2 separate regions of the Homo sapiens genome follow, and region 1 is linked to region 2. A link means that fine-mapping ties the variant in region 2 to the expression of a gene that starts in the linked region. Tissue or cell type: whole blood. Region 2 holds a variant in brackets; the other region holds the start of a gene. All regions are shown on one strand. Distances are between the middles of the regions.

Region 1 (5,249 bases), 150 kb before region 2:
ATATATTTATGTATGTGATTATTTGTTTTATTAATAGTTCTGGATCCCTGACTAGTCTGTAAGCTCCATGAAGGACAGGACAGTGCCTATTTGGTTCTCCATTGTATATCCAGTGCTTAGAACACTGCCCAACATGTGATAGGCAAGCAACAAATATTTGTTGAATGAATACAAAAAAAGAGTAAGACATAATTCCTGCTCTTGAGTTGCACACAATTTTCTTAGAGAAATGAGATGTCCAGGTGTATTGTTAATGACAAAGATTACAAAATTCAGTGTCAAAGTGTTAAGTAGTAAGGATAATGCTTTGGGAGTTTATAGGCAGAATGACTGGGGAAAACTACATGAAGAGTGTGAATATGAGTAAGTTTTAGGTGAAGAACATGAGGATGAGAGCATGCAAAGGCACTGAAGCAAACTTGAGTTGTTTAGGGGATAGTGAGGAGACCACTGCAACTTCAGAAATCTTTTAGGAAAACGAGTCTGTCACTACGCTTAATTTGATTAATGGACCTATTGGGAGGTAGACTATGTAGCAGTAGGAAGAAGTACAATACTCCAGCAAATGGGAAGAACTCTGTAGCAATCATACTGATAGATACCCCAAAGAATCAGGTATTTTGTATTTAACGTTTTATTTGGGCATCAGTATAAACAAAACTATATTAAGTGTCACTGTAAATTTTGGGCATAAAAAACAGAAATTTTCAAATCTGATTAGAAAAATTAATCTGATTTTGAAAATTAACTTTGTTTACAGCTGAAGAGCTCACTCATTATGCTTCAGAAAACGTTTGATCTACTAAATAAGAATAAGACTGGCATGGCTGTTGAAAGCTAGTGATCTGAAGGACTAAAACCGCAGAGATACTTGGAACTTAAAGAAAATACCTGGAAGAAAACCAGACGAATGAAGGATTTTGGCATAGAACATTTCTATGTTTTTTCATTATTGAGATTTCTAATATGAACATTTCTTTCAGTAACATTTATTTGATAATTAGTTTCTGCTGGCCTTAATAATCCATCCTTTCACTTCTTATAGATATTTTTAAGCTGTGAATTTCTTCAGTGAACCATGAAATATATTATAGAACTGAATTTCTCTGATACAAAAAGAAAATGACACACCCTGAATTGAGTGGTATGGTCTCATTTCTACAGTGAAGTCTGATGCTTTGTTAGCACAGAATCCGTACATGTCCAATAGGTCGCTTTTGTAACTGAGATAAGACCAAGAGGATAAACAGGACAATATAAGAAGAAACCTCTATGTCATTACTGATTTTAAAGGTTCTGTTTTCAGGCATATAACATTTCCAGGTTTGTGTACTGTAAAGATTATAATGTCTTCATTTATTTAGCATGCAAATTTAATAGTCAAACTTTTTGAATCTGCATGTTGATGATGATTATCAGAAAGGGTCTTCTGCCATGCTGTATCTTTATGAAAGAAATAGTTGTTTTTTCTTAAGGTAACTATCAGAGGTGGGATTATCTTGCCTCCTCACTTAGAATACCAACAGTCAAAAGGAAGAACCATCCTCTGAGTTTTAAAAACCAGAAGGTTATGTTAAAATCTGGGCATTTAGTGACAGATCAAATGCATACTTGAACTAAGATTGGCTTCAGCTTAGCAGTCTTTCATGGTGGAAGTGACACATCTGGTTGAAAATAATTTGTGTATTTTCAGTAACCATGTATGGCTTCCTTCTTTATGTATGTGTGTGACTTGTTTTGATTGGTAAGTTATAAGCCAGACATAGATTTTAGCTCTTTAATAAAAACTTCAGGGGCACGTATGTCCCAGTACAAGTGTACTGACTATCAAGTTTTAACTCAGATGCAAGCTTTGGCTCTTTCATAAAAAGTTTTTATGCATATGTGTCTCCATACAAGTGGCTCATTAAAATAAGAACTTTGTAAACTGACTTAAAATCAGATATTTTTTCAAGAGTTAGGGAAAGTTGAAGTGTTTTACTGTTTTGTCTCTTGAGCCCTTTCTCTGGGGAAAAAATACATATCCATCTATCTATCTATATATAAACTGTGTATACATTCTTACTGTTTGAACAACTATTGCCTTTAATTAAATGTTTCATTTTTCTCCAGAGTCCCCAAAGCCACATGGCATTATTATAGTCATTTTTGAGATGCCTGTAGAGAATGAAAGTATTGACTCCGTTAGAGGGAAAATGGGTTTCTCTGGGTGAATTCCAACGAAGCATACCTAGGGGTAACAGTGAACCTACCTGGGTTTGTTTTGTTTTGGTAAGGATTTATGTAGTGTCTGGCTGTAAGCAAGAATGAGTGGATTATAAACTTGAAGATTTCTCTGTTAAAGTCACAAAAATGATCGACAAACAATATTTTTGTGATGTTTATTTAAACGTTGTATTTTATAACATACTTCAAGGAAGAGTATCGAAGTAAGTTGCTTTATAAATTAAGACTAAATTCGTATGGATGCAGAATTCAATTAATAAAATTTGAGCCTGTTACGTAAATTGAATATTAATAAAATTGAAAATTTCTGAGTTGTAGTTTTTCTTCTTTTTCTACTTAAAAACAAAACTAGAAAGCCTGCGGTAGTGAAACGTGTACATGGGCCCACACTCTTTAAAGAAATTTTGTGCAATAATAAAACCCAAAAAGGACTCTCATCTCAGGGCAGTTTCATCTCAAATACACAGACGACTGGAACAAAAGTACTAGCGAGGCCTGCTGGTCCAATGTAAAGGCTGCTAGCCAGAAATCATGAAACGAACAGGTTGCTAAATGAACAGATCCGGCAGCAGTGATGGGCCTTTAAGAGAAGGTCAGCGAAACTGGGGGAGGTACTTGGATAACATTTTGCGGTGGAAAGCTCCCTCACCGCCTGTTGCCGGAGTCTGAATGAAGGCTGGCGGCTCCACGGTCTCACGTAGTTCGGAAATCCTCCGGGTTCCCGGGTTTCCCGTATTTCCGTCTCCGCACCTCGTCCGCACCCCGGGGCTCCGGAGGCTGTCCCACCGGCGCGCCGCCCGCAGGCACCGGCGGCGCCCGGCTGCCGCCTCTGGGGCGGGGCGGGGCGTGGCGTGGCGGGGCAGGCCGGAGGTGCGGGACCCACCTCCTGCCCCTGCCTCCTGGACGCGCTCTCGGGAGCCGATTTTCCCCTTCCCGGCGCCAGGGCCGCGGGCCAGGAGGAGGAGCCTCGCCCGCGGGCACCGCGGGGAGGCGGGCGGCGCACGTGCGGACAGGCGGGGAACCCCGGCGCCGGGGGCGGGGCACCCGGAAGCGCGCGTGGACCTGGCGCACCGAGCCGGGCGGGCGGAGGGGCGGTTGGGACGGCGCGGGGAGGCGGGCGCGCCGCCCGGGCCGCGGCGGGCTGTGGTCACAGGTGGGCGGCTGCGGCGAGGGAGCGGCCGAGCGGAGCCCGGGTCCCGGAGACTCCTGCCGTCACGCCCGGGGCTCCGCGTAGCAGAGATCGGGAGACGCGTCTGTGCCTCCGGGGAAGCCGACCCATCTCCCCTCCGCCTCTTTGGCTGCAGTTGCACCTCCGGCCAGAGGGCAGGTAACTTCCCTTCCAAGGTCATTCTCCTGGCGGGGTGGTGCGCGAGGCCCGCCCACGTCCTCCGGATTGGCGGGGGCGGGAGAGGCGCACCCTGCAAGGGGCCCGACCAGTTGGGCTGGACCGCGACCCCTGAGCACTGCCAGGGAGCCTGGTGTGTCAGCCGCTGCTAGCGGGCATATGCTTCGCCTTTCCCTATAGCCCCGAGGCTGAGTTCCCACCAGCGCCCAGGCTTGGAGCGGAGACCGCTCGGCCCTCCCAGCCTGCACCCGCAGGTGAGCGCAACCGCCCGCGCCCCGGCTGTCCCGGACGCGTGGTCGGCTGTCGCCATAGGAACGGCTGGTGCCCAGACGGCGCCTGCCCAGGCTGGGAAGGGGCGGTGAAGGCAGCTCAGACCTCCAAGAACCCTGGAGCCCCCTGTGTGGCCAGGCGGAGCCACAGAAGCCTGATGAAAACGGGACCCCCTCCCCCTCTCTCTTCTCATTTTTGATTGCTCAGGCGTTGGAGGTTAAGCAGAGAGAGAGAGGCGTGGACCTATTTACGAGATGTAAGTTGTGTTCTTTCCACCTTTACCTTCTGAGGGCTTCTTACGCCTCATGGTGACAGGTGCAAATCATGACACAGAAGGGCAGTATGAAGCCTGTGAAGAAAAAGAAAACCGAAGAACCTGAATTGGAGCCCCTGTGCTGCTGCGAGTACATAGATCGGAATGGGGAAAAGAACCACGTGGCTACTTGTTTGTGTGATTGTCAAGATCTGGATGAAGGGTGTGATCGGTAAGAACAGAGCATTTCTTGACGCTGGCCCCATCACCCTTCTGAGAACTGCCATGTGTACTTTCAACCTAGCCACCCAGAATGCTAGAATTTGCTCTTGATTCTATTTCCAAGCATCTAAAATGAGAGTTGGCTTCTGTGTCAAGTGTGAGGATTTTAGAAAGATGGATTACGCAGTAGTGCACAGCTGTCTGTCTGCTCTGTTTTATAGGATATTATTTTTCGTTTAAAGAGAGATGAGGGAGAGAACAGGCAGTTTAAAGGGATAGTAGGCAAGTTAGTATAAAATAAAATGCAAGCCAGCAGAATCTGTAAGTTTAAAATGAACACAATAGTTCCAGAAAGTTCCTGCCTTCTCAGAGGTCTCAGCATTTAGAGACTGACTACTTGGGACTGGGTGGCACCTGACCACAGAGGGCCTTGTGGGTTGAAATTTCATTTTCCTGCTGTTAGTACTGGTCTTGCCCCTTGTTTCTGGGGAGGAACTCCAGCCAGAAGGCATGTATCTCCCCTGGATTCACAGTTTTCAGTGCGACCAGCAACACTCTTGATTGATCATACTGTATTTGGCTTTTATTTTCCAAGTGATGGAAATTACTATCCAAAAAGAGAATTTTTAACATCACTGAAAAAATTTGGTGTCGGACAGTGAATAATCTGGTTTTAATCCATTTTCTGAGTAATTATATATTTAAAAATCACTGTCAATGGAAGTCATAATGTGGGAAGGATAGGGATGTTGGAAACTTGCTTTTCCCATTAATAATTATTTCTGGTTAAAAAAGTCATTGCAACTGCCAATTTGTTGACTTAGAACTTGATACATTAATACAGCCATGAAAAGCATTCCCTGGGGTCTGCAGTCTAGTACCAGCCTTGACTATTAAAAACCCAGTGAACCCTTTGTCGTTCTTACTTGACAG
Region 2 (7,986 bases):
TTGGCATTCATTTAAATATCCTTTTTAATCTCTTCACTTTCTTTTCAACCTTTGTGTCTCTTAGTAATTTACACCTTTTCTTTCCTTGCTTCTTCACGAGGTTCCCTGATTTGTGAGCACAAAACCCAAATAACAGTGGGCAAAGAATGAAACAAGCCAGTGTAAGCAATGTGAATTAGCATAATCGTGCACTCTTCCTCCCGAAAATCCTGCTTCATGCCCCTAGTTCAGGTATAAATACACAGCATCCTGCCCCCGCCTCCACCACCTTTTATTCTCAAAAGTGCTGGCCAAGTTAAATGGTCACCCTAATGTGAGGGGTAGAGATGATCAAACTAGAGAACAGGTGTTCCAGCTAAATGGGACAGCTGATACCCACCTCCAGCTAATTGCTGCTGTGGCTCCGGTGCTGCCAGATATTTCAGTCTTTCAGGAGAAGCCAAAAATCTGGATTTTCAGGTGAAATTTCACAATTTTTAAATGCTGGGTCAATTTTTAAACAATATTCTGCTAGCCAAACAAAACATGGGGGTGCCTAGTTTGCAACCTCTAGCTTAAAATCTGGAAGAAGGGCTTTGGTATCTTTAGCATTTAAAAATTTCTCAACAACTGATTGCAATATACAGAAAACATACCTGTAGTTTCTAGTTCCTGCAGCTGTTTAGATTCCCACATTAAGAGAGCCCATGTTGTCCCATCTCCTTTGCAGGGTCACCAGATAACTCCCAGAACCATTCTAAATCTGCCAGAAGGGAAGGTATGCAGCATCTTATTCAACCTATTTTATGCAGGAGGAATTTTAAGCCTGGAGAAGAAAGATTAACAGTTGGCGCCCCGTGCGCTGGCTCATGCCTATAATCCCAGCACTTTGGGAGGCCAAGGTGGGTGGATCACCTGAGGTCAGGAGTTTGAGACCAGCCTGGCCAATGTGGCAAAATCCTGTCTCTACTAAAAATACAAAAATTAGCCGGGTGTGATGGCACGTGCTTGTAGTCCCAGCTACTCGGGAGGCTGAGGTTGGAAAATCACTTGAACCCAAGAGGTGGAGGTTGCAGTGAGCCAACATCGTGCCACTGCACTCTGGCCTGGGCAACAGAGTGAGACTCTGTCTCAAAAATAACAACAAAAAAGAGAGCCCATGTTGTCCCATCTCCATTGCAGGATCCCCAGATAACTCCTAGAACCATTCTAACTCTGCCGAAAGGGAAGGTATTCAGGATCTTATTTAACCTATTTTATGGATGAGAAATTTTAAGCCTAGAGAAGAAAGACTAGCAGTTGGCTGTGTCTTTCCTCTTGGGAGTGTCTTAGTTCAAGCTGCTATAACAAAATACCATAGACTGGGTGGCTTAAAACAGAAGAAATTTATTTTTCACAGTTCTGGAGGCTGGAAGTCTGAGATGAGGGAGCCAGCATGGTTGAATTCTAGTAGGGGCCCTCTCCCTGGTCGCAGACTGCTCTTGTCTTTCCATGTCTCCACATGGTGGAAAGAAGGGTAGAGAGCACCCTGGAGTCTCTTTTATAAGGGCACTAATCCCACTCATGAGGACTCCACCCTCATGATCTAAATTACCTTCCAAAGGCCCCACCTCTGAATACCATCACATTGGGGTTGGGATTTAAACATAAACTTTTTTTTTTTTTGAGATGGAGTCTCACTCTGTTACCCTGGCTGGAGTGCAGTGGCGCGATCTCAGTTCACTGCAAACTCTGCCTCCTGGGTTCAAGCGATTCTCCTGGCTCAGCCTCCTGAATAGCTGGGATTACAGGTGCCCGCCACCTCGTCCAGCTAATTTTTGTATTCTTAATAGAGACGGGGTTTCACCATGTTGGTCAGGCTGGTCTCAAACTCCTGACCTCGTGATCCACCCGCCTTGAGGCCTCTCAAAGTGCTGGGATTACAGGCTTGAGCCACCACGCCCAGCCTTCAACGTAAACATTTTGTGGGGACACAAACATTCAGTCCATAACAAGGAATTTAAACATGCACACAGTTCTTTCTAGTTAGCATTTTGGCACTCCTAAATCTCACCACCTATTTTCTGCCGGGCCTGTGCCCTTCTAGGGTCAGCATCGATTTCCCAGTATTCACTTTCCAGTGGTTCCTTCTGGCCTCACAGGACCAGCTGGTACAGGACATAAGATAAGAGCTCCTATTGCACCTTCCAGCATTAATAGCAATAGTCCTGGATGACACCGTGAAATCTCAATTACTGTTTGTCAAGTGAACGAATATTCTGAGTAGTTGAGGCATTCTCTTCCTTATTTTGGCCAACTGAGTGCTGGTTAGAAGTGACTTGCACAACACTATGTGGTAGGACCTATGAGAATGTCAGTGGTGGTTTTATGTCACTTTATGCTAGGCAAGCTCCCGGTGACCTGACACATTTTTGGTTTTTCGGATTTTTTTTTTCTGTTACTTGGTACCATTATCATCTTTCAGTGCTGGCCTCAAAGCAATTTCCCCTGCTCTGACAAGAGGAACTCAGAGTGAACTTTCCTTTTGTTCTCATTCCTCACAATCTACTTTGAGATCAGGTCGGAGTTGCCAAGGAGTTCAAACGGCCGATGCTTCCCAGTGTGATTCAGAGGGATCCGTGCCTCCTTTCCGCACACTATTCCTAATGCTCACCTCTCTCCCTGAACTGCTCTCGCCTGCTGTCGGCTCCTTTGTCTGCGAAACACATTTTCTCTTATTATCACCTTGTTCTCTGCCTGCCTTGGATGGTTTCAGCTTGTCTCTTAACATCAAGATGTTGCTATTAACAGTCTTCTCTTTCTTAACAGCTTACAGTCACTTCCTTTTATTCAGTCCTTTTCCTTTTCCCTCCCAAACCACGTAATCATCTCTTTCAGCCTCAAATAAAAGTTGTATAACCATTTCATAACCACTGCTTTAGAGTTGCTATCAAAAAGGCACAAGAAGAAGGACATAAAAGTAAGGGGAGAGAAATCAAAAGGAGAGGAGGTGAGGGATACTCCAATAATTGAGAAACAGGGTGTGTGTGCATCTTCAGAATTCTCCTTTGTTGATTAGCCCTCGAGACTGACCATAGCAAGCTCAGTGGTCTGGTGAAATTTTCCTCTAATTTTTATGGACAGATGGGAAGCTGTTCTCCCCTCCGAGGCTCTGTTTTCCTTCCAAATAGTTAAAATATTTTCTTTGAACTCTCCCAGAATCATTTATTTTTGTCATAAATCCATTCACAGAATCCAATTACATAACGGATATGAGTTTTCCACACCCCCAAAAAGCTAAAATATTTACTCACATTTTCCAGCATTTTCCATTTTCTACTCATTTATTTTTTAGTTCAACAAAACTTAAATAACATTTCCATCACAATTCTATTTATTGTTCCCCCACAATGCTAGCTGAAAATACCAACTGGAAATGTACTCCATTCCCACATAGTAACTGCACTTCAAAAGACAAGAGAGTGACAAAGTATGTCCAATTTTTTCTTTTTTACACTTGAACTGATTTTGGTTAGACTCTCCAGTTTTACATTGTTTTTTGTAGAAAGTTCAGTCATGTTGAAAAAGTCAGTTCCACTTTATATTTTTTCCACCTAAACATTCACCTGTTGCCACAAATCCAACGTGTCTAAAACCAAATTTACTATCTTCCTTCAGTCAGACTAGTTCTGCACTTCAACTTCCTTGCACCTGGCTTCCAGCCAAATCAGCTGGAAACCTTACTCCTTGGATGAATGAAGTAATACATAGAAGGGATGGGTATAAGGCATTTCAAGGAGGATCAGCAAGACTTGGTGACTGACTCAGAGGAGGCAGTTAAAGCCTGACTCAAGGAAGATTACCACCCATCCTGCCCCTCACCTCCTCCTTGTCCTCCTCAACTCCACTCTCTTCCTGCTGTACCAAGGCTAAACTGGCAGCCTGAATTTCTAGGGCCGCCATAATCTGAACCTAACCAATTGCCGTGGACTTTTCCACTTTTCCTAAGTGGTTATATCCTAATCCTACCCATTCTCAAGGTCCAGCCCAAGAACCAAACCTTCCATAAAAACTTGCTTTTCTAGAATTCTAGAGTCTCAAGATTGGAAGAGGAGAGGCTTCTATTCTGATTTCCTTTGTTCATAAAGGCACCAGCAACCAGTGCTCTAGGCATCTGATTTAATCAGTGCTTCAGTTCTGTGAGCCTCATCTTCCAACCAGACTATCAGCTCTGTAAGGGAAAGATAATCCCTCAGCATTTGCCGTGTCTGCACCCTCACCCCTGCCCCACTGAAATTAAGGGAGAATGTGTGATTAATTTTCTTCTCATCATGTGTCTGTAGTATGTTCTCTACTTCTCCATCTTTAACACATCACTTTATCCGTTTCTTTTTTCATTATAATTTGTTCAATTCTGTCTGTGCCTTATCCATTACCTTCTTTTTTATTTTTATTTTTATTTTTTTAAGATGGAGTCTC[G/A]CTCTGTTGCCAGGCTGGAGTGCAGTGGTGTTCCCGGCTCACTGGAACCTCCGCCTCCTAGATTCAAGTGATTCTCCTGCCTCAGCCTCCCGAGTAGCTGGAACCACAGGTGCATGATACCATGCCCGGCTAATTTTTTGTATTTTTTTTTTTTTTAGTAGAGACAGGGTTTCACCGTGTTAACCACGATGCTCTCGATCTCCTGACTTCGTGATCCATCCATTACCTTCTTTATTGCTCATGGCAACCCTCTGAGGTTGACATTATCTTTTCCAATTTACAGAGGAGAAATTGGGCTGGGTGTGATGGCTCATGCCTTAGTTCCAGCACTTTGAGAGGCCAAAGTGGGAGGATCACTTGGGGCCAGGAGTGTGAGACAAGCCTGGGCAACAAAGCAAGACCCCTATCTCTACAAAAAATAAAAAATAACTAGCTGGGCATGGTGGTACACACCTGTAGTCCTGGCTACTCTGGAAACCAAGGAGGGACGATCACTCGAGCCAAGGAGTTTGAGGCTGCAGTGAGCAATGAACCCCAGCCTCAGTAACAGAGCAAGACTGTCTCAAAAAAAAAAAGACACAAAGCAAGGGATCCAGGATTTGAACTCTGAACTCAGCACTATGACTCAAAAGCCCAGGATTTTCCCCATTTTACCCCGGACCTTCCTAAATTGTGTTTTTCTTATGCAGAGCATCTGCTCTCCTTCAAGAACAACGACCAAAAGTAGGTGGAGGCAGCTGGGCGCGGTGGCTCACGCCTGTAATCCCAGCACTTTGGGAGGCCGAAGCGGGCGGATCGCAAGGTCAGGAGATCGAGACCATCCTGGCTAACACGGTGAAACCCCATCTCTACTAAAAATACAAAAACAAAATTAGCCGGGCGTGGTGGCGGGCGCCTGTAGTCCCAGCTACTTTGGAGGCTGAGCCGGGAGAATGGCATGAACCCGGGAGGTGGAGCTTGCAGTGAGCCAAGATTGCGCCACTGCACTCCAGCCTGGGCGACAGAGTGAGACTCCGCCTCAAAAAAAAAAAAAAAAAAAAAATAGGTGGAGGCCTATCCCAAACTGAACTTTTGTGTACTCTGAACCTCTCCTATTTGCCCTCTGGGCTACCCCCATAATTACTCCGTGGTATTAAGGACTGGTAAGTTGGGATAACTTATTAACTATTCCTCTTTCTATTTGTGGTCTCAGAAATCTGAACTACATTTTAATGATAAGAGGGCTGAGGAGTGACCCAGAGATGCTAATTTTGTTTTGGTTAAAATCTCATACATTCGCATATAAATGAAAAGCAAAAGGACGTTTAAATCGTAGAAAGGGAAAAAAATAGCTTAGTCTTTCTCTTTGTCAGAAAGAAGCTTCTTTGGTAACACATAGTGTATGATTTTAGAGCCAGAAGGAATGTTACAAATTATCTATCCAACCCCTTCATTTGACAGAGGCAGAACCCAGGCCCAGACAGTGTGTGACTAACCCAAGGTCCAACAGGAAATGAGAGGCAAGGCTAGAACTAGAGTCTAGGTTTCCTTTTCCACCCCAATTCTTCTCTGAGTCCTTATCTCTTGTTCTGCCTCTATTCAGCCTCGTTGGTAACTTGTACCTCACAAACTAGGTGTGGTACAGACATTATTATTGCTACTCTGACAGTGACTATAGCCTTTCTGGCTGCTGGGATAACAGTGATTCTTGAACACAGAGACCATTCTGTTTGTAGATACATTTTAGGAGACTTCGTTATTATGACTGTGGATATAATGGAATTTGGAAAAAGATGTCTCAAACCCAGCTCAGAAAGATATATAGACCAAGCCCTTTCCAATATATTATGCCATTTATAATTCCCTCCCTGGCCTATGCCCCTCCTATAATTATACTTTAATAATTTTTGTTGGTTGCTGGTTTTTATCAGAAGAGGGGAGGAAGTGAGCATCTTCCAGGGCCTCATCAGGAGATCCTGTCTTTTTCTCACAGGTCCTTGATAGTCTATGGAATTTGTCCCAGCCGATAAGCACATACAACCCAATCTTAATCAGGGACTTCCCAATATATTGGTACCAAGGATTTTGCTCATTTGTGTATGTCTTCCCCATCCTAATTCTCTGATACTTAGAATTCATTTATTCACCTAGTCAAGAAAGATTAATCCACTGCCAACTAAGTGTCAAGTGCTCTCCAGACACTGGATTAAATGACAAAAACCCTACTTGCCTTCTCGCAATTTATAGACCAGGAGCAAACTCCAAAATTACGTATATTCTACATAGAGTTAGAAAGCTTCACTTTACTCATGTAGTCTGTCAAATCAAAGTCCAACCTAATGTAACCACCCAATGGGTTCTCCTTGCCCACTGCCCAGAGAGAGCTGATTTAAGACAGGGGAATTGGAATAGAGAAAGAGTTTAATTCATGCAGAGCCTGCTAAATGGAGACCAGAGTTCTGTTACTCAAATCAGTCTCCCCCAAAATTTGGAGACTCGGGTTTTTAAAGGATAATCTGGCAGGTAGGGGACCAGGGAGTGGGGGTCGCTGATTGGTTGGGTCAGAGATGAAATCATATGGGGTCAAAGTGGATTCGTCTTACTGTCTCCTGCTCCTAGGTGGGATTGCAGTGCTGGTTGAGCCAGATTACTGGTCTGGGTGGCACCAGTTGGTGCATCAGAGCACAAGGTCTGCAAAATATCATGAGCACCAGTCTTACGTTTTATGATAGTGATGTTATCCCTAGGAGCAACTGGGGAGGTTTAGAATCTTGTGGTGTCTAGCCGCATGACTCCTAAACCATAATTTCTAATCTTGTGGCTAGTTAGTCTTACAAAGGCAGCCTGGTCCCCAAGCGAGAAGAGGGTTTGTTTTGGGAAAGGGCTGTTATTATCTTTGTTTTAAAGTTAAACTATAAACTAAGTTTCTCCCAAAGTTAGTTCAGCCTCATGCCCAAGAATGAACAGGGGCAGCTTGGTGGTTAGAAGCAAGATGGAGTCAGTTAGGTCAGATATCTTGCACTGTCATAATTCTCCCACTGTCATAATTTTGCAAAGGCTGTTTCACTAAGAGATGACAGAAGGTGGAAAATCACCACATGACAGTATCTATGGGTAAAGAAAATCAAAATGTTAGTGGTTTACATTTCATTATCTACTCATTATTAAGGAAAGAACTACAGACCAAATTAATGAGTTGAATTTGCCTCTTAGCTGCCTTGATTAGCTCAACATTAATTCTGTTTGAGTGTTCTTTTTCCTTCCCTCCCTCCCTTCCTTCCTCCCTTCCTTCCTCCCTTCCTCTCTCTCTTTCTTTTCTTTTCTTTTCTTTTGAGACAGAGTTTTGCTCTTGTTGCCCAGGCTGGAGTGCAATGGCATGATCTCGGCTCACCGCAACCTCCGCCTCCCAGGTTCAAGCAATTCTCCTGCCTCAGCCTCCCGAGTAGCATGCGCCATCACACCTGGCTAATTTTTTTTTTTTTGTATTTTTAGTAGAGATGGGGTTTCTCCATGTTGGTCAGGCTGGTCTTGAACTCCTGACCTCAGGTGATCTGCCCACCTCGGCCTCCC

Evidence for each region. PIP is the estimated chance that this variant, and not a neighbour inherited with it, causes the effect.
Region 1: ZDHHC23 starts here. The variant in region 2 is fine-mapped to the expression of ZDHHC23 in whole blood (TOPMed, PIP 0.94).

Annotation. Positions count from the first base shown.
Region 1 is chr3:113,944,638-113,949,886 of GRCh38, forward strand. ZDHHC23 (zDHHC palmitoyltransferase 23) reads left to right here and starts at 3,376. Exons shown (of 5, transcript NM_001320466.2): 1 at 3,376-3,553; 2 at 4,049-4,326. The coding sequence starts at 4,166. It overlaps GRAMD1C (GRAM domain containing 1C), which reads left to right. Exons shown (of 18, transcript NM_017577.5): 18 at 761-2,537. The coding sequence ends at 841. RefSeq lists an enhancer at 2,794-3,294 and silencers at 3,009-3,508, 3,859-3,958.
Region 2 is chr3:114,090,058-114,098,043 of GRCh38, forward strand. No RefSeq gene overlaps it. Among named protein-coding and RNA genes, the nearest start is that of QTRT2, 37 kb to the left of the region's middle. The variant G/A (reference allele first, on the strand shown) is at 4,438.